5 linked regions of the Homo sapiens genome follow. The protein of the gene in region 5 purifies or fractionates together with the protein of the main gene of each other region. This does not show direct contact. Each region holds a gene or a part of one and is shown on either strand. Other genes may lie near its edges.

What was found.
Region 1: the proteins of STK11IP (region 5) and ARID1B purify together in Homo sapiens (affinity purification with mass spectrometry, with the first as the bait; one large-scale study listed by BioGRID). This does not show direct contact.
Region 2: the proteins of STK11IP (region 5) and P4HA3 purify together in Homo sapiens (co-immunoprecipitation; one large-scale study listed by IntAct). This does not show direct contact.
Region 3: the proteins of STK11IP (region 5) and PHF10 purify together in Homo sapiens (affinity purification with mass spectrometry, with the first as the bait; one large-scale study listed by BioGRID). This does not show direct contact.
Region 4: the proteins of STK11IP (region 5) and SS18 purify together in Homo sapiens (affinity purification with mass spectrometry, with the first as the bait; one large-scale study listed by BioGRID). This does not show direct contact.

Annotation. Positions count from the first base shown.
Region 1 is NC_000006.12:157,203,878-157,207,377, reverse strand, and holds part of ARID1B (AT-rich interactive domain-containing protein 1B), read right to left. Parts: coding exon 3,382-3,500; intron 1,212-3,381; coding exon 1-1,211. UniProt on the Homo sapiens protein: Involved in transcriptional activation and repression of select genes by chromatin remodeling (alteration of DNA-nucleosome topology).
Region 2 is NC_000011.10:74,268,924-74,275,546, forward strand, and holds part of P4HA3 (prolyl 4-hydroxylase subunit alpha-3 isoform 1 precursor), read right to left. Parts: intron 4,685-6,623; coding exon 4,622-4,684; intron 798-4,621; coding exon 729-797; intron 1-728. UniProt on the Homo sapiens protein: Catalyzes the post-translational formation of 4-hydroxyproline in -Xaa-Pro-Gly- sequences in collagens and other proteins.
Region 3 is NC_000006.12:169,713,083-169,719,705, forward strand, and holds part of PHF10 (PHD finger protein 10), read right to left. Parts: intron 5,837-6,623; coding exon 5,706-5,836; intron 4,825-5,705; coding exon 4,741-4,824; intron 3,007-4,740; coding exon 2,873-3,006; intron 2,776-2,872; coding exon 2,626-2,775; intron 1,761-2,625; coding exon 1,651-1,760; intron 1-1,650. UniProt on the Homo sapiens protein: Involved in transcription activity regulation by chromatin remodeling. Belongs to the neural progenitors-specific chromatin remodeling complex (npBAF complex) and is required for the proliferation of neural progenitors.
Region 4 is NC_000018.10:26,051,072-26,057,694, forward strand, and holds part of SS18 (protein SSXT), read right to left. Parts: coding exon 6,518-6,623; intron 1,775-6,517; coding exon 1,553-1,774; intron 1-1,552. UniProt on the Homo sapiens protein: Appears to function synergistically with RBM14 as a transcriptional coactivator. Isoform 1 and isoform 2 function in nuclear receptor coactivation. Isoform 1 and isoform 2 function in general transcriptional coactivation.
Region 5 is NC_000002.12:219,609,847-219,616,469, reverse strand, and holds the end of STK11IP (serine/threonine-protein kinase 11-interacting protein), read right to left. Parts: intron 6,600-6,623; coding exon of another isoform or gene 6,589-6,599; exon of another isoform or gene 6,344-6,588; intron 5,218-6,343; exon of another isoform or gene 5,109-5,217; intron 4,867-5,108; coding exon 4,636-4,866; intron 4,516-4,635; coding exon 4,412-4,515; intron 3,343-4,411; coding exon 3,245-3,342; intron 2,719-3,244; coding exon 2,540-2,718; intron 2,310-2,539; coding exon 2,228-2,309; intron 1,995-2,227; coding exon 1,924-1,994; coding exon of another isoform or gene 1,781-1,923; exon of another isoform or gene 1,599-1,780; intron 1,377-1,598; coding exon 1,129-1,376; intron 764-1,128; coding exon of another isoform or gene 680-763; exon of another isoform or gene 652-679; coding exon of another isoform or gene 643-651; exon of another isoform or gene 427-642; coding exon 277-426; 3' UTR 19-276; downstream 1-18. UniProt on the Homo sapiens protein: May regulate STK11/LKB1 function by controlling its subcellular localization.

The sequences.
Region 1 (3,500 bases), on a different chromosome or scaffold from region 5:
TGAGGCGACAGGACCGAGTTGGGTCCCACAGTTGGAAAGGGATCTTGTGCCTCTGCAGACGGGCACACCATCCAGTGCAGCAAGCCATCCAAAATTGGCAAGCAGATGCTTTCCGTGTAAGCAGACAAGTCTAGCTGCCCGGAAATGTTGGCCAACGTGACCAACGTGTTATCCCTCAAGACCTCGAGGCAGTCCCACCACCACTCATCTTTGCTGCAGGCCACCCCCTTGTCCTCATCCTCCTCTTTCTCATAGGTCTGCGGTGCTCGCTTTCTCTCTGGATGCTCGTGGTGAAGAAGAATCAGCTTCCCCAGGATCAGCACCAGGCCTGGATGTTTGGACATTTCGGCATCATTGCCAGGCACGAATGACAAGCTACGGACAATATTGGACACACAGATGCATCGCTTAGCCAGCGAGTCCTGCCAGTGCGCGATGGTACACAGAGGAGTCTCGTCTCGGCTCCTGGGCTCGTCCTCCAGCAGCTTGATGTTCCGGTGACTTTTGGCTTGCTGGATACCAAAGGGAAACTTACTGCTTTCGGTCTGGGGCCCAGGGTTTGCGTCTTCAGGCAATGCCCCTGGCCGAGCAGAGAGGACGTCATCGATGGTTGCTATGATGCTTTTCTCTTGCTGCTCTTCAGAGTCGCCTTTGCCTTCTTGCTCTTTCTTTCTACCTGCGGAGCTTAAGGGGGGAGGTGGGCGCCTGCGAGGAGGAATTTCCATCTTGCTCTCAAAGTGAGTCTGAATGTGCTCGGTGGTGTCACCCCCGCCGAGCTGCCAGTGCAGAAGGCCACTATTGAACTCCTGCACACGCCCCAACTTGTCAGATCGGTCAACAACAAACAGGTTGTTCTTTTTGACTATCTTTATTGGCAGCTTGTCGAACTTACTGGCTTGCTTGGGCTTCTCCTTTGGGTCTGCAGCGGCGTCCGGGGCAGTCAGAGCGATGCTGCTCTTTTCATCGCTTTCTGTCTTCTCGCTGTCTTCCTCCTCATCCTCCTCGTCTTCCTCGTCGTCATCAATACATTCAGCATCTTCCTCCTCTTTCCCAGAATCGTCTGCCAAGGACTGGCTGTCATCCTTCCTTGCTGCGTTGTGATCAAGTGCTTTTTGGCTGGGGTCTCCCACTTCATATTCCATAAGAATTCCAAAAATGTCAATCAGGCATTTTCTAAAGTACTCGACTAAAAGTTCGAGAAATCCAGACAACTGGAGAGGAGGAGGAGGAGAAGAAAGAAAGAACAGGTACAATGTCATGACATCAGATATGACCGAGGAGGGTAAAGATCCTGAGACCCGTCAATACCTTTCCATCATTGTCACACGTTTGTCTCCCTTTTTGGCTGGACCATGAAAGATAAACTACCCTTCAGGTCCAGCGAACTTCCTGAATTTTACAGTATAAACTAAACCGATGTTTAGCATGTTCCTTATTTGCTGCTTCCTTGCTTAGACTATCTACACGAAAACTTACTTTTTATTCTCATATCTCTAATCTTATCACTGAGGGAGTGCCTTGCTGTTCTTTACCTTTCTGTTCCTGATTTAGAGACAATGTACTCATTATTAGAAGAGTGGGAACATGGATTTTATAGACTCTTTTGCCCAAAGTGACTCTGTTCTCTTCTATTATTTATCTGAGACTTGCTTGCCGGGATTTTTATGGTTGTTATTCTTAGGATTTTATGGTTATTTTTGTCTCAGGTACCATAGGTCACCCTAATTTATGTTCTCTATATATCTTTTGGAGAAGATAATTTCAGCAATGTGGTAGCTCATGAACACTGAAAATTAAAAACAAATCAATTTAGCCTATGATAAATAAATTAAAATGTTTCATAAAATGCAATTTTACATTTCAGTTATTTATGACTCTAGCTGAAAGGCAAAAACCACTATGAGAGAACCACTGACTACAAGAACAAGTTTGGTTTCCTTTAAGCAACTGTACCAAGAAAAAACCAATACACTTCACGATTAGCAACTGCCCTCTCTCCCAACACCCCCCACCATGTTTAGGAACTCTAAAGAGTAAGTAACAAGGATTCTAACAAGGATTCTTTCCCGGTAGATGTTCTGGAAATCAGCTATACCTTCATATCCTACTGTCAGTTTCTTGAAAGTAGAGTTGGAACAATTTTTAAGAAGTCAGGGGAAGCCCCCAGCACCAACTAGAAAGAACTGCTTTTAGTGTGCTGAAGGCACAATGTTCCAAGGGCATTTTCCCTTTTTTTTCCAGGGGAAAAGGGAAAGTTAATAAAGCAATTCTGGTTATGCAAATATGTGATCAACAACAGTTCACCTAACATAAGGATGAAAGCGCATTACTCTAGCAAATGCAGTATACAGTTTTTAAATACTTATTTTCTGTTAACACAGAACTCGTACAATGTTTATGACCTTATTAATAAACTTTCTAGCAATTGAAAAATTGCCTTTCTAGGCTGATAATGAGGGCTTAAATGAGAGAAGAAAGAAGTAGAAGATTCTGGTCTTATTTCCTTAGAAGCAAGGAAATTAAGTGTTTTAGTTTTTGCACTCAAAGTAGAGAGTTGTTTGTATACTATAGGGAAAATGACCTTTTTCCATTTTTTATTTCTAAATATTTCTTTAAAAGTCTATAGCCCAGTGGACTCGGGCATTTTCCCCAAACTTCAGTGCTCCTCTCTTCTAGCTATTATGCTGGAAGCTACCTGAAGCCTACCTCTGAACAAAGGAGGGGTTTAAGCTCATTAAAAGTAGTAGGCTTTTACATGACTGCTTCAAAATAACCTGGAGAGAGGCAGAAATGAGAGAGCATAGACTAAGAAGTAAGTTTAGCCATGAGTTCATAACTATTTTAGCTGACTGACAGGTACATGGGGGTTCATTAAACTGCTCTCTCTCCTTCTATATATATTTATACATTCTATAAATGTATAGAATATAAAATTTCTAAATCTTGAATATCTTTTTAATGAAAAGAAGATGTCAAGTCCTCCTGGAAAGCAGGGTTATGTCCCATTGCAACCAACTGTGTTTCCAATGCTGACTCCAGTCACAACTTAATGTTACATTTTGATTTCTTCCCATTGGCCAGCTAATATTCATTCTGAACAATTTAATGTTACTACTGTCATCTATCCCATATACACATACACACACAGTCACTGTTCTCTCATAAGAAATAGAGGTATGTGTGTGTACACACACTAAAGACTACAGTGAATATTATCCCAGATAACTCTACATTGATTAAGGCTGGTTGATAACAACTGCAGTGATTAACAGTGTTGGACGGTCAGTGCTCATCAACTCAGGCATTAGTTCAAGCACAAATGTGCATGGCCTGATGCTCTCCTATCCTAATTTGGTTGTTAGTTGGACTATGCTGGCTTACCTGGGAGAGATTGAAAGTAGCAACAGTGCTGTCATCATACAGAAGAATATTAATAGTGTCCAAAGCCCACGTACTCTCAGCCAAAAGACCTGATTTAAGGGACATCATCACACGCCACG
Region 2 (6,623 bases), on a different chromosome or scaffold from region 5:
AGAGCTTTCCAGGATGCATTGGCAGTCTCTATGTTCCTAAGCCTACAAGAGGCGTCAAGCTCCTGAGTATTCAGAGATACCTGGCATTGATTATCGAATGCTCAGGATGTGCCAGGCACTGTACTACCTGCTTTACAGGAATGATCTCGTTTAGTTATCTTCATTTCATTCCTAAATTAGGTAAGGGCTGCCAGGGAGTTGGACTGATCTGAAATTTGGAGGAAATACTCATTCATGAAGCAAACCTCTTAGACTCAGTTCTCCTCAGCGCCTATCCTTTCCAAATCCCTATTGCAACATCATAATGCCTGCTGACGTCTCTGTAAACTCCTGGATCAAAGGGCTATGAATTTCCCTCTGCACCCTCCGTGCCTCTAGCTCTCAATGTGGACTGAACTAATGATGGAAGGAACTAGATGCTGTAGAGGATCCAAAGTAAATAAAACAGAGCTCTTATCTTGAGGAGCTGTACTGTGACAGGGAAGACAGACATGTAATCATCTACTTGCAATATAAGTGTAAATAAAATAACAAATAGAGGCACAAGTGACGAGCATGTGTGCGGTAGTAAAGAAGACTATGGGATGATCTGTGATTCTGGGAATTGGGGAAGACCTCTTTTTGGCCCTCCTCCCAGGAATGGGCTTGCAAGCACAGACAGCGTGAAGGTTAGAGGGTAAGCGCTGCACTCCCTCAACCCCGTCTTCTGGGACCAGGGCCCCACTCACCCTAACCACAGGCACGCTGAGGTTGGCATAGATGAAGGCTGTGGCTCCTCCAGCTTCCACCGAGCTCAGCTACAAGACCAGAGGAAGAAGCCAGAGTTAAAACTGCCACCGACTTCCCTACCCTGTCATATGATGTCACATCTGCATAGATTCCTTCTCATGGTCTTTTCTTCAACTCTGAGAGAAATACTTGAAAGACAATCATCCAACTCAGGAGGAACTTCGGGAGCCTACTCAATGGCATTGGTGTTTGCCTACAGGGCCACAAGAGGACAATGTTTTGGTATTCTTCCTTTCTTTCCCTTCCAGCTAACATCCTTATTGAGGGCTACAATAAGTAGATTCAAACTTTTTGACTGAGACCCTTAGGAAAAAATACATTTTAAATAATGACCCAAGACACACACACATACACACACACACAGACACATACACACACACACCTCCTGAAATATAATTGTCATAAAACATTCTTAATATCTGAGATAGCTTCTGATCTTCTCTACTTTATTTTATTCTATTCTAGTGTGGTTCTCTTAAATGCTCATCAGAACCACTAAATTAATCTCACAACCTATAATGGATCATGACTTGTGGCTTGAAAACCAGTTTAGACTATGATTCTTCTTGAAAGCTGGGCATCATAGGAACTACTTATTACACCTTTGGCATATTCTCCAGATCACTCTGCTCCTCTCCAGGGAACCCAAGCTAAGGAGTTTCATCACTGGTCTGTTCTAGGACTATGGATATGTTTTCTTAATGTGAAGCTTTTTTTCTGGTTGTCACAGAAATATATAATAATTGTAAACTGTTTTAAAACAGGAAAATATTTTTAAATAACAATAATTATCATTGTACCATCCAGAAAAAAGTTATAGTTTACATAGTGATAGTTGACATTTATTGGGCACTGACTATATGCTAAAAGTTACACTATGTCCTTGCAAATATATTATCTCATTTATTCCTCAGAACAATCCTAGGAGTTACAATCGTTATTATTTTTAACTCTTCACATTTTACAGATAAAGAAACCAAGTCTCAGAGAGCTTAAGCACTTTATAAAAGGTCACATGGCTCTTCCATGATGGAGTCAGGATTTGAGCTGAGCTGGTGCCATGTGACTACAAAGTCCCTGCTCATAACCATCATGCTACACATTTGGAAATTTAGGTCATATCCAAATGTTTACTATTATAAACAACACTGCACTGAACAACTTAATGAAAAAAAATCATTTTGCATTTTGGATTGTTTTCATAGGAAAGAGTCTTGGCACTAGTATTATGGGGTCAAAAGGACATGCATAAGTTTCATACTTCTTATACATTTTGCTAAATTATTTTTTCAGCAGTTGCATCACACAAGAGTGCCAGTTTTACCTCACGCTGCCTAGCATTATCTACCAGAAGGTTCATGCTCTGTAATCTTATGGCAGTCAGATCCCGGTACATTTACTTGTGTTACAGAGCAAGAGGTATAGGAGGTAGGACGCTGGCCCTTGGTAGATGCAAGTGAACTGACATGGTGATTTGGAACCTGGAAATGGCAGTGGTGACTATTAGCATTCCTTGGCTCTCCCTGTAGCACACTGGGAAAGCCGATGAGAACAACAATTGGCTCCTTGTGTTCAGGTAACAAATTAGATTATTCTATTCTAGCCCTTGTCAGTAAGGGGCAACCTGGACTTTCCTGCATTCTTTTACCTGTGGTTTTACAATATGGTGGAAAGGAATGACATAGCCAACACATTAAAAAGAAAATCGGATTCTGCATGCAATGAAGCTCATGAGCACGGCATGGGCTGTAAGAACAGTGGGAAAGGGAGAGAAATCTTCCGTCTGTATACCTTCTACTATTTTGTACTGGGGCTGATCTTTTTTTTTTAATAGAGACAGGGTCTCACTATGTTACCCAGGCTGGACTCGAACTGCTGGGCTCAAGCGATCTTCTTGCTTGAGCCTGCCAAGTAGCGGGGACTACAGGTGCACACCACCGCACCCAGATTGGGACTGATCTTATGTCCAATCTGAGCAGAAAATCACCAACTGGACTTCAACTCAATCCTCTGTACTTCTTAAAGATTATTTTCTCCCTATAAAATCAGTCTTAGGTTTCCCACAAACCTTAACATTTGTCTTGAGAAATGTTTGTCTTGAAATTGTCTCGAGAAATCCCAACCTGAAGATGAAAGACTTGGGCATAATCTAGCACTTCCCTGGTCCCATGATACTGATTCCCCTTTATGATACCCTTTCCTTTAATTGCTCTGTGGGATACAATGACAGAAACATACAGTATGGAACTTTCCAGAGTGACATCCCTCCTTACATTATCTCATCAGACCCTCACAACAACACTGTGAGGAAGCACAGGGCAAAAAGTGAGCTCACATAATAGATGTAATCTGTGCTGAGGCCACATAGTAAGTGGCAAAATCAGGATTAGGTCAACTGACTCCAAATCCAAAGTGTATTCCATTCCACTCTGTCTCAAATACTTAAAACCCAAATGCACATGCATGCACACACATGTGAAAGTGCATGAGAGTGCATGCACACACATACACACACACACACACACACACATGCATTTGCCATTTAAAATTACTGGGCTCTTATACCCACGCTACCTTCGCTATAGTAACTGGGGCCCTGTAACCAGGGAACCAGCCATAGGAGATATTGAGGGGATAAAGAACAGAGATATATTGTGCCCTAGATGCCCTGTTTTTTGGCAGCAGTTCATTCTTTCGCCGTTTGTGACCTCCCATAACAGCTGGAGTGGTCAACCAGAGATGCAACCAACTGCAGCTCCAAGATGTGTCCCCTGCCTGATAGCTGACCTCAGAATGATCAGAATGAGGCCAGACACCATTGTAAGTGGAAGCCTTCCAGTTCCATAGGAAGTACAGAACTGAGCCACATAGAGAAACACACTGGAATTGCTGGCATTAAAGACTACACAGAATGCTGGCCTCTGACTGCCCTTTCTTGGCTGTCCTGTGGAGACCAGAGACAGTCCTAATAGAAGAGGAAAAGCTGGGGTGAGGGATGTCTGCTATTCTAATGAGGCTGAAACAAGGACTTCATCTTTGGTTGTTATATAGAACCCTTATATATGTTTGTCCCTTCAGTTAACAGTAAGGTATCTCTTCTAATAAGTGATTAATTCTAATATTCTCTTCCAGTGACAGGTGATTGGAAGCTTGTCCATAGAGACGAAAGTAAACCCACATGATCTGAAGGGAAGGGGACAGGTGAGATGATACAGACTGGGGCCGAATCCTGATCAGGCCAGGAATTAGGAGAGAAGTACAATTTATTGGTTTATCTTGAAAGGGGAGTCATGGAGATTTTACTGAAGATTTTATAGAGAGATAAGGAAGAGAATTTTCACTAAACATCAGAGGCAGCACTTGCTGAATTTCTCTCAGTGTCTCTGTTCTTCCCTCTTGTAAATCTGCTGCCTCATTCCTCATCCATCTCCCTCCCCACAGCCCCACAACCTCATCTATGGGTTGTTTTTCAACACTGATTAGTCCATGAGACCTCAAGGACACAGATTCTCAGATCCTCCTCCTGTGTTGTTCAAGTCCCTCTATCTCTTGGCCTTCAGTGGAGCTCCACTTCCCATCCTAATCCACTGCCCATACCAAGGTCATATTTAGATTTACACACTGTCAGCCTCTTTCAGGGTAGAAACCTTGTCTTGTATTTCTTTACATCTCCTACAGTGCCTATCAAAAATGCTGTCTGAAATTCGCAAAATTCCTGGAGATTTTTGCGCTGAGTACCAGATAAAATCAATACGTGAAATTGCTTTGAAAACAATAAAATAAAGTAGAGCTATAGTCAGTCATGAAGTAAGAAGCCCAGAGCAATACTCACATAGATCATAAATGTTGCAACTCGGTTTCCTGACTTCATTCTGTAGAGGGGGCTGCTTGGTGACTGAGAAAAAAAAAAACAGAACATATTATTTTATGCAGATGGCACCAGAGGGACAGGCAGGATTCCACTATTAATACAAATAGAAGTAAAATGGGGGCATCAAAGATGGGATATAGTTCTGATATACACCTACTGGAGTATGTGCCCGTCTTTGCTGGCAGGTACTCAATACAATTTTTTTTTTTACTAATTTATTAGATACTTATATAAAAGAATTGTCTACTACCAAACAGAACTACTTGTCAGTAGTGAAAGTACTATATGAGGGGTTAATTGCACCTTTGAGTTCTCTGTGAAATATAGAAATTAATATATAAAATATTACAGACAATTATTCTGTAGAAATACCAAATCATAAGGCCAGAGTTCCAATTACTTGCTGAAGAGACATACTCTTTTTTTTTTGTCATGGAACAGTTTGAGATATGATTTATATTCCATAAAATTCACCCCTTGTAAGCCTACTGTTCAATGAGTTTTCCCACAATTGAAGTTTAGAACACAGAACACTTCCATCTGCTGAAAAGCTCCTTCATGCCAGTTAGGAGTCAATCCCTGCTCTCACCTCCAACCTCAGGCAACCCACTTATCTGCTTTCTCTCTATAGCATTCCATTGTGCAGATATATCAAAATTTGTTTATCCGTTCACCTGTTGACAGACATCTGGGCTGTTTCCAATTCTTGGTTTTTTTTTTGTTTTTTTTTTTTTGTTTTTGAGATGGAGTCTCACTCTGTTGCCCAGGCTGGAGTGCAGTGGCGTGATCTCAGCTCACTGCAACCTCTGCCTCCCAGGTTCATGCCATTCTCCTGCCTCAGCCTCCCAAGTAGCTGGGACTACAGGCGCCTGCCACCATGCCCAGCTAATTTTTTTTTTTTTTGTATTTTTAGTAGAGACGGGGTTTCACTGTGTTAGCCAGGATGGTCTCGATCTTCTGACCTCGTGATCCGCCTGCCTTGGCCTCCCAAAGTGCTGGGATTACAGGCATGAGCCACCGTGCCCAGCCCCAATTCTTGGTTATTACAAATAAAGCTACTATAAACTTTTCTGTACAAATGTTTGTAGAGACATATTTTCTTTTTCTTTTGGGTAATATACATAGGTGTGAAATGGCTGGATCATAAGTAGGTGAATCTTAAACTTTTTAAGAAACCATCAAACTTTTTTCCAAAGTGTCTGTATAATTTTGCATTCCCACTAGCAGTGTATGAGAGCTTCAGTTCCTCCACATCCTCACCACCACTTGGTATAATCTTATTTTATTGTAGCCATCATAAGAGAGTGCAGTGCTATCTCATTGTGGTTTTAATTTGCATTTCCCTAATGATGTTGAGCATCTTTCCATATGTTTCTTAGCCATTCATTTATCCTTTTTGGAGAGGTGCCTACTCAAATAACTTTCTGTCCATTAAAAAAAATTGAATTATCTTATTACTGAGTTATAAAAGTTCTATAGATATTTTGGATACAAGTTCTTTACCAAATATATGATTTGCAAATATTTTCTCCTAGTTGGTGGCTTGTCTTTTCCTTTTCTAATGATGTTTTTTGAAAAGCAAAGAATTTTAATTTGATAAGGTCCAATTTATCAGTTGTTTTCTTCTTTTATGGATCATACTTTGGTGTCATATCTAAGAAATCTTTGCCTAACCTGTGGTCACAAAAATTTTCTCTTATGTTTTCTTCTAGAAGTTTTATAGTTTTACATTTACATCTATGACCCATTTTGTGTTAATTTTCATATATGGTGTAAGGTAAGGGTGTAAAGTCATTATTATTTTGCAGATAGATATTAAATTGTTCCAATACTGTCTATTGAAAAGATTGTATTTTCTTCATTGAATTTCCTTGGCACCTTTGTCAAAACCAATTGATCATAAATGTGTTGGTTTGTTTCTGGACTCTGTTCTGTTCCATTGACATATGTGTCTCTCCTTACA
Region 3 (6,623 bases), on a different chromosome or scaffold from region 5:
ACAAATTTAATCATCTATTTTGTCTGAAACTATATTGGCAATCTCTTCCCCTAGGTCAGACAGCACTGCTTCGTGCCACCTCCATTCTCACCCTCAGTAGCCCCCATTCAGGAGGCAACCCTAGATGAAGACTTCTCCAACTAAGACAACACACCAAAAAGCAAAGGGGTTAATATACTTGCATATGACTTTTAATAATTTGCTGATGCCAAAATAAAATTTTTAAAAATTAAAGGCCGGGTGCAGTGGCTCACGCCTATAATCCCAGCATTTCGGGAGGCCAAGGTGGGCAGATCACCTGAGGTCAGGAGTTCGAGACCAGCCTGGCCAACATGGTGAAACCCCGTCTCTACTAAATATACAGAAAATTAGCTGGGCAAGGTGGCGGGCACCTGTAATCCCAGCTACTCGGGAAGCTGAAGCAGGAGAATCACTTGAACCAGGAGGCAGAGGTTGCAGTGAGCCGAGATCGCGCCACTGCACTCCAGCCTGGGCGACAGCGTGAGACTCCATCTCAAAAAAAAAAAAAAAAAATTTGAAGAAAAACTTTTAAAAAATTGCTGCTCATGATTTAAATTTGAATTTAAAAAATCTTTTTTTATTTAAAAAATTTCTGCCCAAGATTTGACTTTCAAATGGTGTGAGTTATGATACTATATTTTAAATTCTATTCTCTAAAAAATAGTATATTATGAAAAACATACGGTTCCAGAGTAAGGCTTAAGGTTGAAGTAAAAGCTGAGACTTTAAAACAAAATGGGCTGGGCACAGTGGCTCACACCTTTAATCCGAGTACTTTGGGAGGCCAAGGTGGGCGGATCACTAGGTCAAGAGATCAAGAGCATCCTGGCCAACATGGTAAAACCCACCTCTACCAAAAATACAAATAATTAGCTGGGCGTGGTGGCATGTGCCTGCAGTCCCGCTATTTGGGAGGCTGAGGCAGGAGAATCACTTGAACACAGGAGGCAGAGGTTGCAGTGAGCCGAAATCACACTACCACACTCCATCCTGGGTACAGAGCAAGACTGTCTCAAAAAAAAAAAAAAGAATCTGTTAGCCCTGTTTTTTTCAGTTACATTTAATTTGGGAATAGGAGATAAGTAACATTTAGGGTCCATATTGGAGCAGCAGCCAGGCCAGGTCAGCAATGTGGCTGGGGCACCCAGTTGCCCATGCCTGCCCCTCTCCGCTCCTTCTCTCATCTTCTCTGCAGTAAAAGTCAGTGTTTCTCAAACTCTAACCTGCACATGAATCACACAGACATCTGTTAAAATGCAGACTCTGAGTCATAGGTCTAGAGTTGGGCCTGAGATTCTGCATTTCCAACAAGCTTCTGAGCAATAACAGTGCTTTGGACCACGGAACATACCCTGAGCAGTGAGGTGCTACAGAACCCCCAGCATCTGTCTCTAACAAACCCAAACAGAATGGGCAGAGACAGAGGCATCTAGACTTCACCAGCATATATTCAAATTCTGACTACAGGGTATTGTTTACCACAGAACCAGAGAAGAATAGCAACACAAATCCTATACGATATCTTACGGTGATATCTATAGACCCCAAAATTGTTAGGAGGCAAGTACAAAAGGCTCTGAAACCCCTTACCAATAGCCGATACCAACTGTAACTAAAACTACTAAATACCTCTTATAATATTCCTGGAACTGTCCGGGGATGAGAGCCACTGGGTAAGAACTGACCTTTGTTCGCTCTGTTGGCAAAACTTTGTACTTCCCTTGAGGTACCTGGATAACCTACGTTAACATAAAGAGAAACACAAAACTGATTCCATGCTAAGAATCAAGGCTTTAGGAAGAGTCCCCACGTGCTCACCACTGCACGCCCACTTCCCCCTCGAAAAGCTAAAATTTTAGGAGATATCAGGAGCTATAACCTAAGAGGACAGTTGGTGCTTTCAGTTCTATATATTATTGTTTTAAAGGCCTATTCTCCTGAGGAATGGCAGTGGATCTCTTGCTCACTACTTAACAGCAGAGTGATCTGGGTAGCTTATACGACCTCTCTGTAGCTCAATTTCTTTATGAAATGGAAGTAATCCTAGTTCCAACCTCACATGGTTACTATGAGAATTAACATGCAAATCTCTTAAAAACTCTTGGGACGCACAGCAAGTATGATATGTAGCTATTATTAGTCTCATTTAGAATTATTAACCGTAAAGCAAAAGACATCTCACAAAAAAATGTAAATTGAGTATTATTAAGCACACCATTAAAAATAACATCTCAACTTCTGAGGAAAAAAAGAACACGCAGGTGTCAGCATGGCCAACATGGTAAAACACCATCTCTACTAAAAATACAAAAAATTAGCTGGGTGTGGTGGCAGGCGCCTGTAATCCCAGCTAATGGGGAGGCTGAGGCAGAAGCATCGCCTGAACCCGGGAGGCGGAGGTTGCAGTGAGCCGAGATCATGCCACTGCACTCCATCCTGGGCTACACAGACTCTGCCACAAAAAACAAAACAAAACAAACAAACAAACAAAAAAAACACACACACATAGGTGGTACAAAAAATAACGATAAAGGGGGTGATGGGCACTCTGCAATAACAAGTAATAAACTAAGTTCAGGGGGTACTAAATTTAAGTTATCCTACATGTGTCTGCAAGTCAAAATAAGCTCTTCTTTCTTCCATGCGTTCCCGGTTTAAGTTGCTATTAAATTCTGCTGCTTTTTTGGCAGCTTTCTTAATATACTCAGGCACTTTACTGGCTTCAACTTTCTGAGTATTCTGTTGTTGCATTTGCTGGAAAAAAAAAATACAGTTGGAAGTCACATATAACTTTCTAAAATGTCATTTTCCCCAACCCAAATAAAAAATGCCAGTCACCTCAATTACTTACGGAATACTCTTTATAATGGTCTGTAATTCGTTGACGTTCTTTTTCTTGTAGAATAACAGAATACTCAGCATGTTTGGCTGGATATTCTTTTATCATTAAATCAATCACTTCATCACTGCGCAATGCTGTTAAGCCTATTTTAGACCAAAAAATAAAAAAATAAAGAAGCTCTTTTAAGGATAAGTGAACAAAAGCACTCTTCAAAATTTAATTCTTCAAACCGCTCCACGTTGTAATGGTTTTCCAATAGCCAAAGCAAAATATCTTAGTACATTTGAAAATAATTAAACTTAATATTCACAATATAAACTCGAGCAATCAAAAGATTATCTTGCAAAAGGCAAATATATCAATTTTTCAACCAAACAAGTTTATTTTTAAGATTCTATGTGCTTTGAACATATATCCCTTTAGTTGGAAACAACTGTTAAATAATGAAATGCACTAACTACTAACAAGTACTACAGAATACTAGATGAATAAAAAAAAATTCAACATATTATAGTTCCCAGTCTTCAAATTCCATACACAAGAAATATTACAATCAATTAAAATTTCACCAAAAACATCAGCACACACACACACACCATGGAGACAATTTTCAAAACTCACAGTATCAGATTTCACCAATTGCTAAAATGCATTCCCAAGAATTTATATAAAAAGTAGCCATGTTGCATTAAAATGTTTGTGAAAAAAAGATTACAAATAAAGCACGGACATAATTATACAGAACTAAAAATTGAAGAAAATTTGCCTTTTTGCATTTTAGAGATGTGGTCTCGCCATCTTGCCCAGGCTGGAGTGCAGTGGCTATTCACAGACATGATCACAGCACACTACAACCCCAAAGTCCTGTGTTCCAGTGATCCTCCTCCCTCAGCCTCCCAAGTAGCTGGGACCACACGCACACACCATGCACTTAGCAAAGAACCTGCAACTTAAAAAAATATATTGTACAAGCTTTGTACAAAAAATACAAACACTCTGAAAACTCTGTAAAAATTATTAGACAAGGGCTGGGCATGGTGGCTCATGCCTGTAATCCCAGCACTTTGGGAGACCAAGGTGGGTGGATCACAAGGTCAGAAGTTGGAGACCAGCCTGGCCAACATGGTAAAACCCCGTCTCTAATAAAAATACAAAAATTAGATGGCTGTGATGACATGCGCCTGTAGTACCAGCTACTCGGTAGGCTGAGGGAGAATTCCTTGAACCCGGGAGATGGAGGTTGCAGTGAGCTAAGATCGCGCCACTGCATGCCAGCCTGGACAACAGAGAGAGACTCTGTGTTAAAAAAAAGAGAAAAATTAGACAATTATACTCTGTTATAGAATAGAGGTTGATCCTTGACTTGCAATGGGGTTACATATGATAAACCCATCCTAAGTTGAAACTATCCTAAAAAGTAAAAGCATTTAATACATCTAGCCTACCAAACATCTTTGCTTACCCTAGCCTAACTTAAACATGCTCAGAAAACTTACATTAGCCTACAGCTGGGCAAAATCAGCTAACACAAATTTTAATATAAAGTGTTGAATATGTCATGTGACTTGTTACATATTATACTGCAAGTGAAAAGAATAATGGTTGTATAGACACTTGAAGTATGGTTTCTACTGAATATGCATTGCTTTCACACCATCATGAAGCTGAACCATCATAAGTCAGGAACCACATGTGTGTTCAAGCTTCATTCTCCTGTGTATTTTAACAATAATCAAAAATGAAGTAAATAATGTAGCATTTAAATAGTTCAATTTATTTTATTAATTTTGTAAAATATTTTAGGAAATAAGATACTTATCTAGTATTATCTCATAAATGTTCAGCTTGAAAAATTCACATTAAAAAGCTATTCTTACCTAGAGTGCACTGAGTTTCAGTAATGACATTTAGCTCTCTCAGGTAGAGTTTCTCCTTGTGAGACAAATCTCGTCGCTCTAAATCTCCAAAAAAAAGATCAAAAGACTATTAAAAACAGCAAAACCTTATGCACTTGTAAAACTTTTAAAAGCTTAAAAACCTTGACTTTTTAAAGTATTCATATTACATATTCCAAATATTATTAAAGGGGCTACAAAAAAATTTATAAATTCAAGAAATAAAACTCAGCAAGATACAAAAGTTAGAATAAAATAGGAAATAGAATAATCCAAAGCAAGAAGGTCATATAAATAACTATACTAAACTAGTTCATGAGGAATAGCCTTTCTCAAATTCAGATACGGCTCATATAGCTAACTCTATTCCTTAGATCAAGAAACAATGGTAAAAATCCCAAACTTGACTATAAAATGATTTTTTCTAAAATTTTCCTCAGGAAATTCACCTTTCCCATTTTGCTTTTAAATCAGTTTATGAGCCATAGAAAATATCAATAATGAAGAGTGATGCTGAATGATAGCAGTAAATGAAACACAGCCAGGCGTGGTGGCTCACACCTGTAATCCTAGCAATTCAGGAGGCTGAGGCAGCAGGATAGCTTGAAGCCATGAGTTTGAGACCACGCTGGGCAACATAGCAAGACTTCACATCTCTAAAAAAATAAAAATTAAAAAAATCTGCCACGCGTCGTGGTGCACACCTGTAGTCCCAGATACTTAGAAGGCTGAGGCAGGGAGACAGCTAGCCCAGGAGTGCAAGGCTGCAGTGAGCTATAATCGCACCAGTGCGCTCTAGCCTGGGTTACAGAATGAGACCCTTAGTCTTAAAAAAAAACAGCAAGCACAAGAATATAAAATATAATCTACAGAAAAATTCAGAAGTTGACAGTGTATCATAAAGAATTACTATCAATTATAAATTAATCTATTATATAAACTAGTACCTGGATATTTCCTTTTAAAGGAGGTCACACCCAAATATTCACTGACTTGTTCTTGAAGCATATAGTATTCTCCTGTTTCATCAGGTGGCCATTTGTACTCTATCAAGTTTTCTGCTGGATAGTAACTAAAACTAAGTACAGAAATACATATTATGCATTAAATGTAGCTTTCATTAATTTTTAATCACTTTTATTGAGGATATTTTGAAAACTATTTTAAGTATTTAAATTATTTGCCTCCTATGACTTGACTTCCTGTGTATCAAAGAAAATTACAAAACAGGTACAAGGAATAGAAATAATTATCTGGTCTACCAAGTCAAAAAGGTATGTGAAAATAACATCTTTTATACACTGGGAAGAACGTAGAATCACAATTGCTAAGAACGAAGGCATTTTTAGTTTAAAGGACCTATGAGGGCAAAGCAAGGTGATGATGGTATCAGCTCTGACTTCTTTCTCTTGGGCTTAAAATGCATAGCCAGTATTTCATCCACCCAAAGAATAATCAACTTCTGTCTCTTGTCTACTGTTCAGTGAGTCATAAATAGCTGAGAAAACAGAACTCTTAAAAACCTATTATCTCAGTGCATCATATCATAAACCGTAACTGTTTGTTCTCAGATACTCCACAAACCCAGAAGCAAAGAATGGACCTAGTTTGAAGGTGCCAGGGTATCACAGTCGATCTCCATCCTGAGTAACAGAGTACAGATTTCAGGATATGGGCCAATTCAACCTCTATATTGGACATGGGAAAGTGACACTATGTTATGCATCCATCTATTTAAAAAGTAACCTTCAAAAAGAACAGTGTTCTCAAAAATGGTGCTGGGAAACTGGGTATCCACATGCAAAAGTATAAAATTGGACCTTTACCTCATATCACAACTCAAAATGGATCAACAACCTAAATAT
Region 4 (6,623 bases), on a different chromosome or scaffold from region 5:
CATGCCTGTAATCCCAGGACTTTGGGAGGCCAAGGCAGGTGATCACTTAAGCCCAGGTGTTCAAGACCAGCCTGGGCAACATACCAAGACATTGTTTCTATTCTTTTAACAAAATACAAAAAATAAAAATAAAAAAGAAGAAATTTATAACTATGAGAACAAGGCAAAAAGTGATATAACTACTGTACTATAGTAAAAGGAAGACCTACACATACTTACAAAATACGACATTTTTAAAAATAAAAGTTGGTCCCTAAGAACAAAAAATTTCTAAAAACACCTCAATACTTTTCTCCAAAAAGTCAATATGCACATTGCTATATGCATTATTTTTTTCTTCGAATCTTATTATGTCATATCAAACCATGCTGCAGCAACATCCATTTTTTGTGCACACCATACCTTTTCTTAACTATAGGTTTCTAAGAAGTTAAGAAGTGTGCCATCATTAATGGAGTTGCTGTCAGAATCATCAATTTTCCTGTTCTCTCTCCTGGTAACCAAACTGTATAGAGAAACACATGAACTCCCTTCTGATCTAGCACTGACTGGATCTTGCTGTTGTTTGGACTTTTAATTGACCTAATAAAAACAAAAAAATAATTCTACCATAAGCATTAAGTAACTTTGGGGGAAAAAAATGTAGCAAGTGCCAGTTTTGTGAAGCTACAATGATTGGCAATTTTTTCTATTATCTCCTTTTGCTTTCAGTATATCTCATGAAAATTATTAAAAATCTGTATTATTTTAAAATTATATTATTTCATCATAAGGAATTATCAACAGATTAACACTAACTTCTTTTATCTGGGTACATTTTAGTGCTCTGTTTATTTTATAAATCAAAATCTAGAAAATTTTATTCCAAATACATTTAATTCTATCTTACAGTCTTAACTTCATTACATTTTGTAACTGAAATAGCATTAACCTGGAAATAAGCCAAATGTTTTAACAGTCAATTAGCAGAACAGAGCGCCACTTACTGGCTTTTAGTTATTATTCACAGAATACTTAAAAGAGAAACATGGTACAATTTCATTCTGAGATTGGTAATAAACTTTAATGGACTTACACCACTCTAAGACAAGTACAGCAGCACCTCCACTGAACATTCTAATGGCAAATTATTTTAGAATTACCTTTTAATGCTGAAACACAGCATCAGAAAACATCCATATAAATCAAGGGGAATTCATATAAATTAATACATCCTTAATAAGTAAAATGAAGGAGCAGGTGTTTATTTTCTCAACTTTCTAGCTAAACCAAATGTTTGGTTCTTCATTGACTGGCTTTAAAAAACAATTCTCAACAATACAGAACCTCAAACAAACTGTCCAAAAGACATAAAAATAAATAAGCTTAAAAAGCTACATTGAGCAAAGAGATTTAAACTAGCTTCAAACTCAACATCTCCTTTTTATGGGCATGACTGTCACTCACTTTAAACTTTTATTTTTATGAACCAGCTAAGAACCTGACAACAATCATTTTACTTTTCAAAGGCTAATAGAGCACTCTAGTCAAGAAGGACATAAAGCTTAGTTACCTTGGTTTGGCTGCATACTCATATTTGGTCTGGGACCATAGTTTCCCATTGGTTGTCCCTGACTCATTGTCATCTGATTCTGTACTGGCATGCTCTGTGATGATGGCACAGAATGGTTGTAACCTCCCATGGATCCATGGCTACTTGAAGGCATATTCATGGAACTGTTTGTCATATTGAGTTGATTGGGTCCAGGTCCCTGCATAGGCATATGGTTAGGCCCTTTGAAGAAAAATGATCAGAAGCAAAATATGAAAGTTAAACAGATGGTCCATACAAAAGTACCTGGAAATAATTTTTTTTTTGCATTATTATAGTAATACCAAACAATAATTAATCGATAGCAAAGTAAATGGTTTATAGGAAAAGACAGCAAATACTGTGAAGTAGTTATTCCCATTTTTGGATTAAGAAATTGATGCTTTTGAAGTCAGGAGCACTCTGAAAAAGAAGGAAGGACTAGCTTCTTCATAAAAGAGCAAAACATATCATAAGGTTGGAGTAATTAACTATGAACATAAATGAATAGACTAACAGATCGATTGAACAGAACAGAGTCTAAAAGTAGACCCAAATACATAGCTGAGTAAATAATCACAGTAATATTAAGTATTAGTGAGCAATAGAAAACTAATTCAGTAAATGGTATTGTGACAACTGGGGAGCCATCTGGAAAAAACAAGTTGGATCACTATCTCATTTGTTCCACTAACTAATTCTAGATGAATAGAAAACTTAAACATTTAAAAAGAAGAAACCATAAAAGAATTTCAAAAAGGAGAATTTTAAAAATAATAATGGAAGGACCTTCTTAAGTATGCCAGAAAACCCTGAGCCATAAAACATTGATAAATTAGACTATACAAAATTTAAAAATTTGCACGACATAAAAAACTCAAAATTAAATAATAAAAAGGTAAATAAGAAAATATTATTTATAAGATAGATCGCAGACCCAGACCAAATTAATTACTTAACATATGAAGTAAGTAAAAGACCACCACCAGTAAAAGAATGGGCAAAGGACATAATGAGGGAATGACTAGTTCACACAAAAACTACAAAAAGGTTCATCAACATTAAAAGATTGATTGCTTCACTTAAAATAGGAAGGCAAATTAAAACTATGAGACCGAACTTTCACCTCTCAGATTCTCAAAAATCAAAAGTTCGATCTAACTATATTGTGAAGAAAGAAGCACTTTCATCCATTGTTGAAGGAACAGAAATCTTACTTATATTTCATGGGGAATCAAGCTTGTGGAATCAAGGGTGGGATCAAGCTTGAGGAAATTTGTGATGACAAACAACAATTCAAATAAAGTAGTTGTCCCTCAGTATCTGTGGGAGATTGGTTCCAGAACCACCCACAGATTTCAAAATCCGTAAATGCTCATGTCCCTGACATAAAATGACACAGTATTTCCACATAACCTATGTACATCCTCTCATATACTTTAAATCATCTCTACATTACATGTACTGCCTAACACAATGTAAATGCTATGTACATAGTCACTATACTGTGTTGTTTAGGGAATAATGACAAGAAAAAAAAAGTATGTACATGTTCAATACAGTCACAATTTGTTTTTCCAAGTATTTTCAATCCACTGTTGGTTAAATCCATGGATGTGAAATTCATAAATGCAGAACTGATGGATATTACTATTTTTACACAAAGCAATTTGGCACTAACTGTCAAATTTTAAAATATATATACCTTTAACCCAGCAATTTCAGTTCCAGGAATTTATGCTAGAGATATACAAATTTTTGTGTGCATGCGTATTGACACACAGAACACATATATATGTGTATATATATTTTTACAGCAAATTCATGACAGTATAATTCATAATAACAAAAGACTAGAAGCCTATGTTTCCATCCTAAATGTTCGAATAAATTAAACTTGTAAAAAAGAACATGATAGAGACCAAAAAGAATAAGGCATCTATTTACATATGGAATAAAATAATGGTCTCCAAGATATATCTTTGAGAAAGAAAAGATACATAATAGTATTTAATGAGTGCTATCATTTGTACTTTAAAAAAAAAGAGTAAAAATAAAGGAAATACACATGCATTATTTTATATAGAGAAAATCTCTCTCTCTTTTTTTTTTTTTTGAGACGGAGTCTCATTCTTGTTGCCCAGGCTAGAGTGCAATGGTGCAATCTTGGTTTACTGCAACCTCCACTTCCCGGGTTCAAGCGATTCTCCTGTCTCAGCTTCCCAAGTAGCTGGGATTACAAGTGTGTGCCACCACGCCAGCTAATTTTGTATTTTTAGTAGAGATGAGGTTTAACCTCACTGGTCAGGCTGGTCTTGAACTCCTGACCTCAACTGATCCACCCACCTCAGCCTCCCAAAGTGCTGGGATTACAGGCTTGAGCCACCATGCCCAGCGAGAGAATATCTCTTGAAGGACAACTAGAAACCAATGCCTCTCTAGAACTGTCTGGAGAGGTGGCGGCTAGGCATCCTTTGGTATCCTTTGATTTTGGTCCCATAGGCATGTATTACCTAGCTTTTAAAAAATCAATTAATTTTTTAGGCTGGACTCGGTGGCTCATGCCTGCAATCCCAGCACTTTGGGAGGCTGAAGCGGGTGGATCACCTGATGTCAGGAATTTGAGACCAGCCTGGCCAACATGGTGAAACCCCATCTCTATTAAAAATACGAAAATTAGCCAGGTGTGGTGGTGTGCGCCTGTAATCCCAGCTACTCGGGAGGATGAGGCAGGAGAATCGCTTGAACCCGGGAGGCAGAGGTTGCAGTGAGCCGAGATTGTGCCACTGCACCCCAACCTAGGCGACAAGAGCAAAACTCTGTCTCAAAAAGAAAAAAATAGTAATTTTTAAAAAAGGGAACCTGAGACTGAGTAGTGATTTGACCCAGATCAATGAGAACATAAGTAGCTCTAAAACTGAGTCTACATAATGAAATATACATTAAAAACCAAACTGAAATAGGAAACAGCCAAGATGCAAATTTGTGTGCATAAACAGGTTGGCTAAATGCTATAAGGAACAAATAAAGAAAATATAAGTTACTGGCCTTCCAATTTCTCCTACACTTAACTGTAACTCCGTAACTATTGTTAGGAGAAATTCTTTCTGTTTTTTTTTTTTTTGTTTTTTTTTTTTGATGGAGTCTCACTCTGTCGCCAGGCTGGGGTGCAGTGGCGTGATTTCGGCTCACTGCAACCTCCGCCTCCTGGGTTCAAGTGATTCTCCTGCCTCAGCCTCCTGAGTAGCTGGGATTACAGACGTGCAATACCACGTCCAGCTAATTTTTTGTATTTTTAGTAGAGACGGGATTTCATCATGTTGGCCAGGATGGTCTCAATCTCTTGACCTCGTGATCCACCCGCCTTGGCCTCCCAAAGTGCTGGGATTACAGGCGTGAGCCACCGCGCCTGGCCTGGAGAAATTCTTAACTATTGTTTCGGAAGCTCTATAGTATTCTGAACAACCCAGGTCATAAGTGGTTGATAATAACTAGCTTATAAAAGAATATACTTCAGAAGGCCTTACACAAAACCAAAATGTCATGTTAACCATAACTGTACTGCTGCTCAAATGCTTCTTTGGCCTTAGGCTTCAATGTTACACAGAGAATTTAAGTCAAAATCCTAATTCAAAGTACCATCATAAAAAGTCACAAAACTCCTAACTAGCTAACCTGCACTATCACTACCTTTCCAGTTCTAAAAACAGTGTGTCCTGGTGAACTAAATGTGGACTTGGCAAGAAGCTTTCTCTTGACTACAATATGACTACAAACTGAAAAGCAGTGATGTCTTTATTCCTACCTCCATACTGGATGTGTGCCATATATGTTGCAAGCCTTAGCAGGAAATAGGAGACAGCCACTGAAACACCACTGCCCTCCTATATGATCAGTCACACCTCAATCTTCTATAAGCCAGGCTACCTTACCTCTTTTGCTCTGTGCTCTCTTGTTTCCTTACTGCACCCATCATCCTTGGACACCAATGCTATCAATCAACACAATCGGCTACAGAAAACAGTATCCTAAAGATGCCAATTACTAATTTTAATAATTGTTCTGTTATTTTATTTCCATTACTGCTAGTTGTATAATGTCTTCTTTATCAATGAAAATAACTTTTGTCTTAGAAGGTAAAAATATTCTGATACCTAATGTAGATAATATTCTACCAAAAATTACGGCCATGGGTTGATGCTACTGTTACAAAAACAAAATAGTGTAAAGATACTTGTATGATTAAAATTTCAAACCAGCCAAAGGTAACTAAATCAGCATCCAATGTCTTAAAACATATCAACCTAGTGACCCTACACTTAAAATTGACAAATAGAAAAGAGAATGGCTCAGTGTATAAATAATGTAAGGAAGTTTACATTATTTTTCAGCCTTTAATTTTTGCTTTAAAATCAATTCCAATATTTATGTTATGCTATAAACCTATGTATTAAAAAAATTTAGATTCAGCTTCAATATCAATAAGGAAATACTAAATACACCAGCACTTCAGAGACTGTTTTCTTTCCCCATGTGTTTTTCCCAGTGATACTGTTTCTGAGATCAATCAATATTTAAGTAAATAAAAACTCAGGGAAATGTTATAATATCTTTTTTAAACAGACTTTAATTCTTAAGCCATGGTGCAACGCCTTTTTTTCCAAAAAGCTTCTAAAGCCAACTGTATTGCAGTTTCAGACAGACTAAATTTAGCCAGTTCTGTTCATCAGAGGAATGGTGTGTGTCAGCTACATCAAAGCCCAAGGGCAGCCTGATAAACACTGAATACAGGTCACGTAGCTCTGTAGCTAACAAACTCTAAGAGAGCTTGTACTCGGGGGCATTCAAAGCAGTTTTGTCATCAACAATCTAGTATCCCTTGAGCCCCCATGTCGTTTCAGTTGCTAAGCAACTCTGGTGTTAATGTCTTAGAGGAGAAAAACTTACCAGGCATCTGGCCGTTCATCTGGTTCTGCATGTGCGGTGCAGGAGGACCCCCACCTACCATTCCATCTGAAGGCATGTTGTGAGAGCGTGGAGGTGGGGGAGGGCC
Region 5 (6,623 bases):
TAAGTACCACACATGACCTATGAGTTGGAAACAACTTTATTGATACCTGAGAAAAAGTGCAGGAAAAATATTCCTCCTGACCAGGTGGCCTGTCCCCTGAGGCCAGATCATTCTCTCGCCTCTCCCTTAAGCCCTGGGTCATTTGGGACCTCACTGGCCAGCACCCAGAGGCTGAAGACATCCACAGCCAGAGCCTGGAAGCCAGACCCAGAGACCAGGAGAGGGAATGTCTACAGCGTGGCTCCTGAGGTCAGGGCCAAGGTCAGCGTGGGACCCTCATCGGTCAAGGGCCAGCGCCTCTTGGATCACTGTCCGGAGTCCGATGGAAAACAGCTCCTCCCATGGTTCCCGGATCCAGGCAAGCAGGGCTGTCAGCTGCTCCTGACACACCACACGGAGTGCCCAAAAGCTCTCCAGCCGGGACACCTGGCAGACCGAGCAGTTAGCAAGGCGAGGCTCATGGGGACCACACCAGGGTGGGTACAAGGGAGGTCTCTGCGAAGGCCTCACTGTCTCCACCTTGGCTCAGTGCCTCTCCCCTTCCCCAGGCCCATGTCACTCCCCATAAAAGATCCTGACTCTGAGCTTTGTAAACAGAATCCAGCCGACGTTTACTGAAAGCCTCCAGAGGACCTGTCTTTTTCATCTTCCCTGTTGTACAGAAGATGCGGGCTCAATTTCAGGGAACTGTGGATTCAATTCCCGGCTCCACCACTTTGGACTGGGCAAACTGGTTAACATCCCCAAGCCTCAGCTTCCTCACCTGTAAATAGGACCAGTAACCGTATCTCCTCAGGTGGTGGTCACAAAGGCCAAACGGCTGGCATACAACCGGCCCAATCCTGCCAACTCAAAGCTGCCGGAAACCTCACTGAAAGCCTCGTGGCCCAGCTAAATGGCTGGGCTCCCAGTCCAGGTGTCTCCCCTGCCTACAGCTGCCTCCCTGACTTGATATTCATCCAAGCCTAGAGTCCCCCAGTTCCTCCAACCCTAGTTCTCTCATCTGTAAGTGCCATCCTGCCACCAATGCCCAGGGTTCCTAGACCCATTTCCCACCCTGCCCTCATGGCCCCAACCTGTGCTCACCATCTCCCCTCCCTCCCTCTCACTGGAGATACACATACACACCTCATCGTAGAAGAGCAGCCGCAAGTCCTCAGGGGCTGAGCGGTAGAGCAGCACGGAGCTCAGGCTGCTGAGTGGCTGCTGCTCCCTGACACGCACAGCAGGGCCCGGCCCCGAGGGAGGCACCTTCTCAGAGGCTTCGCCAGATGCTGCTGGAGGAGAGGGCTCTGCCGGGGACCCTGCAGCATCCTCATCTAACAGGAACAGGGTGGACGGAGTCAGCAACAGGGATACGAGGCAGGTGGAAGGGCCTGCAGGGAAAGAGGCATCCAGTGTGGAAGGTCATGGAGGGGCCCAGATCCCTGGGGCCAGCGTCCCAGTGCTGCTGGGGAGAAGAGGTGTGAACCACACTCTGAGGTGGGTCACAAAGCAGCCTGTGCCCCTGGGGCCAAGACCCTCCCTTTCCCAAGCTCCATGAATCTCTACTCTGGAATACCTCTGAGGCCTACCGCCCCCCACTGCCCCACACCCACCCTACTCAGAAACAAGGCTCCACCCTCTCCTTCTGTGACTGATGAGGCAGGGCCGACTCAGCCACGCTGCTCCACTTCATAGAAAGCCTGGGCCCGAGAGCAAAGGCTCTGGGTAACTGAGGATCCTGGGTGCCTCCTAACCCCACCCAGAGGGTCAGGGCACACTGAGGCTGTTACTCAGCTATGCCCTCAAGTGAGAGGTTCTCCAGGTTCCAGGAACTGACAGTTGCTGCAAGGGCACTGTACAGGTGCTGCGCGTGGGCCAGTGCCTGTGACAAGGTAGGGTACAGAGACCAGGGAAGCATCAGCTGCACAGAGGCTTCACCTTCAACCAGGAACGCCCGAAGGTAGAAGAACTGGCGAGCCTCCAAGGATGAGTCTTTTTCCAGCAATGGCCTAGAGGGAATATGGCAGGCACAGGAAGATCAGCTAGCGGGTGGGAAGGACTTGAAGAGAGGGGAGTGGGAAGAAAGCCCTGCAGGGGGTTGGGAGGAGACACTAGGGGCCCATAAGGGGCATGGCATGAGGACAGGTGGCTGCCCAGGACCTACTCAGCACAGGGCCATGTCTGGGGCTCTGTGGAAAGAGGATTGGGCAGCAACCCCAGCCTCTGCCTCCTATCGACTCACCAGAGCCGGTGCTGGGGGGTGACCTCCTCCTCTGTGGCACTGACACAGTTCCTCCAGGCAGGGGGCAGAGACTGCAAGACATCTAGACAGAGGCAGGCCAGGGAACTTTAGAAGGCTCTGCTCTCCTCCAGCCTAAACTCACCACCTCTCAATCCCTTCCTATTCTCCACATTTCTGGATTTCAGAAACTTCTACAAGGGACAAGTCCTGTTACCTCTCTGTCTCCGCTACTGGGTACCAGGTGGGGAGCCTGGCCCCAAGGCCCTGCCCACCCTCCTGCCCACCCTCCTGCCTTCCCCTCCCCTCTCTCACCAAGGAGCTCCTCTAGGAAGGCCCGGCAATGCCTGGCATCTCGGGGCAGCAGCACACAGCGGCCCGCCCCAGCTGCCCACTCTAGCCGCAGGCTCTGGCCTGCCAGGCCCAGCTCTATGCCACTCAGATCCTGCAGGGGAACAGCCAGGGTCAGCTGCAGCCAGCTAGCTGGAGGCTCACTGTGGAGAGAGGGGACAGAGCAATGGAGAAGCATGAGAGTGGAGTGAGAGTCCCAGAGAGGCCCTGCCCCAGCTGCACCTGCCTCACTCACTGCATCACCCCCGTGCGCTCACCACACCCCATCTTCCCCCTCATTCCATCTCCTCCCTCACTCACCCCATCTCCCCCTCACTCACCCCATCTCCCCCCTCACTCACCCCATCTCCGCCCCCCACTCACCCCATCTCCGCCCCCCACTCACCCCATCTCCCCCTTCACTCACCCCACGTCCCCCCCACTCACCCCACCTCCCCCCCACTCACCCCACCTCCCCCCTCACTCACCCCACCTCCCCCTCACTCACCCAATCTCCCCCTTCTCTCACCCCATCTCCCCCCTCACTCACCCCATCTCCCCCCTTAACACCCCATCTCCCCCCTCACTCACCCCATCTCCCCCCTCACCCCATCTTCCCCCTCACTCCCCCATCTCCCCCCAACTCACCCCATCTCCCCCCTTACTCACTGCATCTCCCCTCTCACTCACCGCATCTCCCCAGTCACCTTCAACAGGTACAGCCTGCGGTCAGACACAACCACAAGGCACATGAACTCCCCAGTGTGGCCTGCCAATGCCACTGGCACCTGGGGGAAGAGGAAGTTGGTGAGAAACCTGATGAGAGGCCTGGGGAGGTGGGGCCAGACTGAAAGCCGAGTTCCTGGTGACAGCACCCTCGGCCTGACCCTCCCACTGCCCACCCACCAGTCTATGGAGCTTCCCTCACACTCGACAGCCTCTTCATCCACCACCGCTCTCTGCCTTGCAGCCCCTGCCCGCTCAGAGCCTCAGCAGCTGGCTTCCCTGCCTGTCGCCTCACCCCCTCCACGCTCCGCCAGACTAACTATTCTAAGGCACAAAACTGACCATCACTGCCCCATTTCAAATCCTTCAGTGGCTCCCAGTGGCCCTCAGAAACAAGTCCAAACTCCTTGGCAGACACAGGAGGCAGCTCCTGACCTGGCCCCTGCCGGCCCCCCAGAGTCCTCTCAGGACCCCTGCCCCTCGCCCTGCATGTCCAGGTGCCCTCATCCTGGGCAGTTCTCCCCACCAGCGACACTCTCGGGCCTCCATGCATTTGCGGCTTCCTTTACCTAAGACATTCTTTTCCTCCCTACTCCTTAACTTACCCTTCAAGACTGAGCTTAGACATCACCTCCCAGGAAGGTTCCTTGACCCACTCAAGCTGGACTAGACACCCCTTCAAGGGCCTTAGCCCGATTACAGCATTTGCATATTGCATAATCATTGTCAGCTTCTCACACCAGACTGTAAGATCAAGGGCAAGATTGATCTGTAGATCCTCAATGTCTAGCACAACAGGTGCTCAACAAAGGCCTAACGACATCATGTGTTTATAATAATGCTAGGAGGCCCCATTGATGAGTGCCAGGTGCTGGGCTGGGCAGCTTCAACATGAGCCCTGACGCACGCCACTGTGTAAGGGAGGCATCGTTATCTCCATTGCAGACAGGCAACAACTGGGACTCAAATACCAGGGAATGTGTCCACGGCCACACAGCAAGAAGCTGCTGGGGTTGAAACCAGAAGCCAGATCAGGTCTCTAGAGTGCTTGATCTGACTCAGTTGGCTGTGATGGAAACGAGTGGGCACCCTGGACAGCTGGGGGCATGGGCAGTGTCAGGGAGCACAGACCTTGAGGCAGCACTGGAACTCCTCCTGGGCATCGCTGAACACCTCAACATCCAGGAAGAGCCGGAGTCGGTGGTCCACAGAGCGGAGGCCACAGCGCTCAGGGGCTGAGGGCAATGAGGGGGCATCAGCCTGCCCATGGCAGCCCCTGGGCTCCATCTCCACCTCCCCATCAGTGCCCCTTCCCTTCCCCAAACTCATCTATGTCTTGTTTTGCCTATACTCACGGGGACTGAGGCTCCAACTACCATGGTCACGGGTGCTCGGTGCCTGAGGTGGGCTGTTCTTGGCCCTGTCAAGGTGGTCACCATGGCCAGGAGGGTGGCAGACAGGGCTGGCAGACGGAGAAGGAGCCAGAGACTGCTCTCCCTGTTTCCGCTCCCTGTTGGGGGTTCCCCGAGACACAGCGAGGAGAACCACGTGGTCACTACCACAGTTAGGACACACAGCAGGAGATTCTGGAGGGAGGATGGACACGGTCCCCATGAGCCCCCCCCACAGTGCCACAACTCCCACCATGCTCACGATGCTCCTTCCCCATGCTCAGGTCTCCCCTGAGCCCAAGCCTCCAGCTTCATACACAACCACCGCGCCCCAGGCCACCAGCTCCCTCTCCCGGCACAGCTGCCAACTGATCACTCCCCACCCCAGGGAGGGATGAGCTAACCCTGGCCCACAAACTCCTCAAAGTGCACTCTACCTTCTAACTCTAGGCCCTCTCAGACTGGGCCAAACACAACCAGGACCTGCTCTTATGCCCTCTTACAGACTTGGGCTGATCAAGTACTTCAGGGCTCTCCTAGCAACGTCTGAAAGACCAAAATCAACAGGTCTGGAAAGGCAGAGAACTCTGTTGCCAAATTTCGGTCCAATTCCAGGCTCCATCAATTAATGGCTCTGTAATCATGGGCAAGTCATCTAAGCTCTGTGAGCCTGGTTCCTCGTCTATAAAACAGGGATGACAATAGCATCTATCTTATACTCATCCTTAGTGTCAGGAAGCTGGGAAGGAATCAGGACATGGATCAGCAATGAGAGAGGCAGCACTCTGAGCAGCTACACCGTGATGGGCATGCGCTACCTCCTATGCCACTATGATCGCATTTCATCACCAGAGAAACTCTCCCTATCCCATTTTGCAAAGAAGAAAGAAAATATTAAATCATTTACACATGCTGCCCAGGACCATACAGCTGGGGACAACGGCAGCAGCTACCATTTACAGGAGACCTTTGTGTTGTGCCAGGCCCTCTGCTTGGTGCCTTACTGTCACATTTAAATAGCGTAACAGCACCATGGGGTGAGTTCATTCCCTTCTTTGTTCAGAGGAGGTAACTGAGGTGCAAGTGAAAGGAGAATGGTTGGCCGGGCGTGGTGGCTCACGCCTGTAATCCCAGCACTTTGGGAGGCCAAGGTGGGCAGATCCGAGGTCAGGAGACAGACCATCCTGGCTAACACGGTGAAACCCCATCTCTACTAAAAATACAAAAAATTAGCTGGGTGTGGTGGTGGGCGCCTGTAGTCCCAGCTACTTGCGAGGCTGAGGCAGGAGAATGGCGTGAACCCGGAAGGCAGAGCTTGCAGTGAGCCAAGGTTGTGCCACTGCACTCCAGCCTGGGCAACAGAGCGAGACTCCGTCTCAAAAAAAAAAGAAAAAAAAAAATTAAAGGAGAACAGAGCCCACAGTAATGTTCATTAATAACGCCACCATGGAAGAGGCTCCAGAGACCACAGCACCTCATGGTGTACAGCCAGGGTCCGGGAGGGGCTGGGGGCTGTTTCTGTTTGCGCTGTGTCACTAAGGCTGCATGCCCAGGCCAGTTCACAGTGGGGAATGGAGCAGGGCTCCATTTTCTGAATAAAATCTAAACCCCTGCTCCAGCTGCCGCCAAGAAGAGAAAACCGTCTAATAAAATTCTGGCATTTCCACAGAGCTGTTATCAAGAATATTTATTTCTTCTTCAATGTCTTCTTCAAAGATAGTGCTGACTGGTCTACAATGGAAACAATTCTTGTTTTAAGGACTAGCGCATGAAGAAATGCCACAGGACATTATGTACCTTCCAAGGTCAGCCGGGAAGGATAAACCAAGCCAACTCCCCAAGCATCTCACTCAACAGCTACACTTGCTGGCAGAGGCAGCACCACAATCCAATACTGCAGTGAGGGCTCATTAGGTTTTATGTAGTGTCTGAAATATCAGCCAAAAAATCCC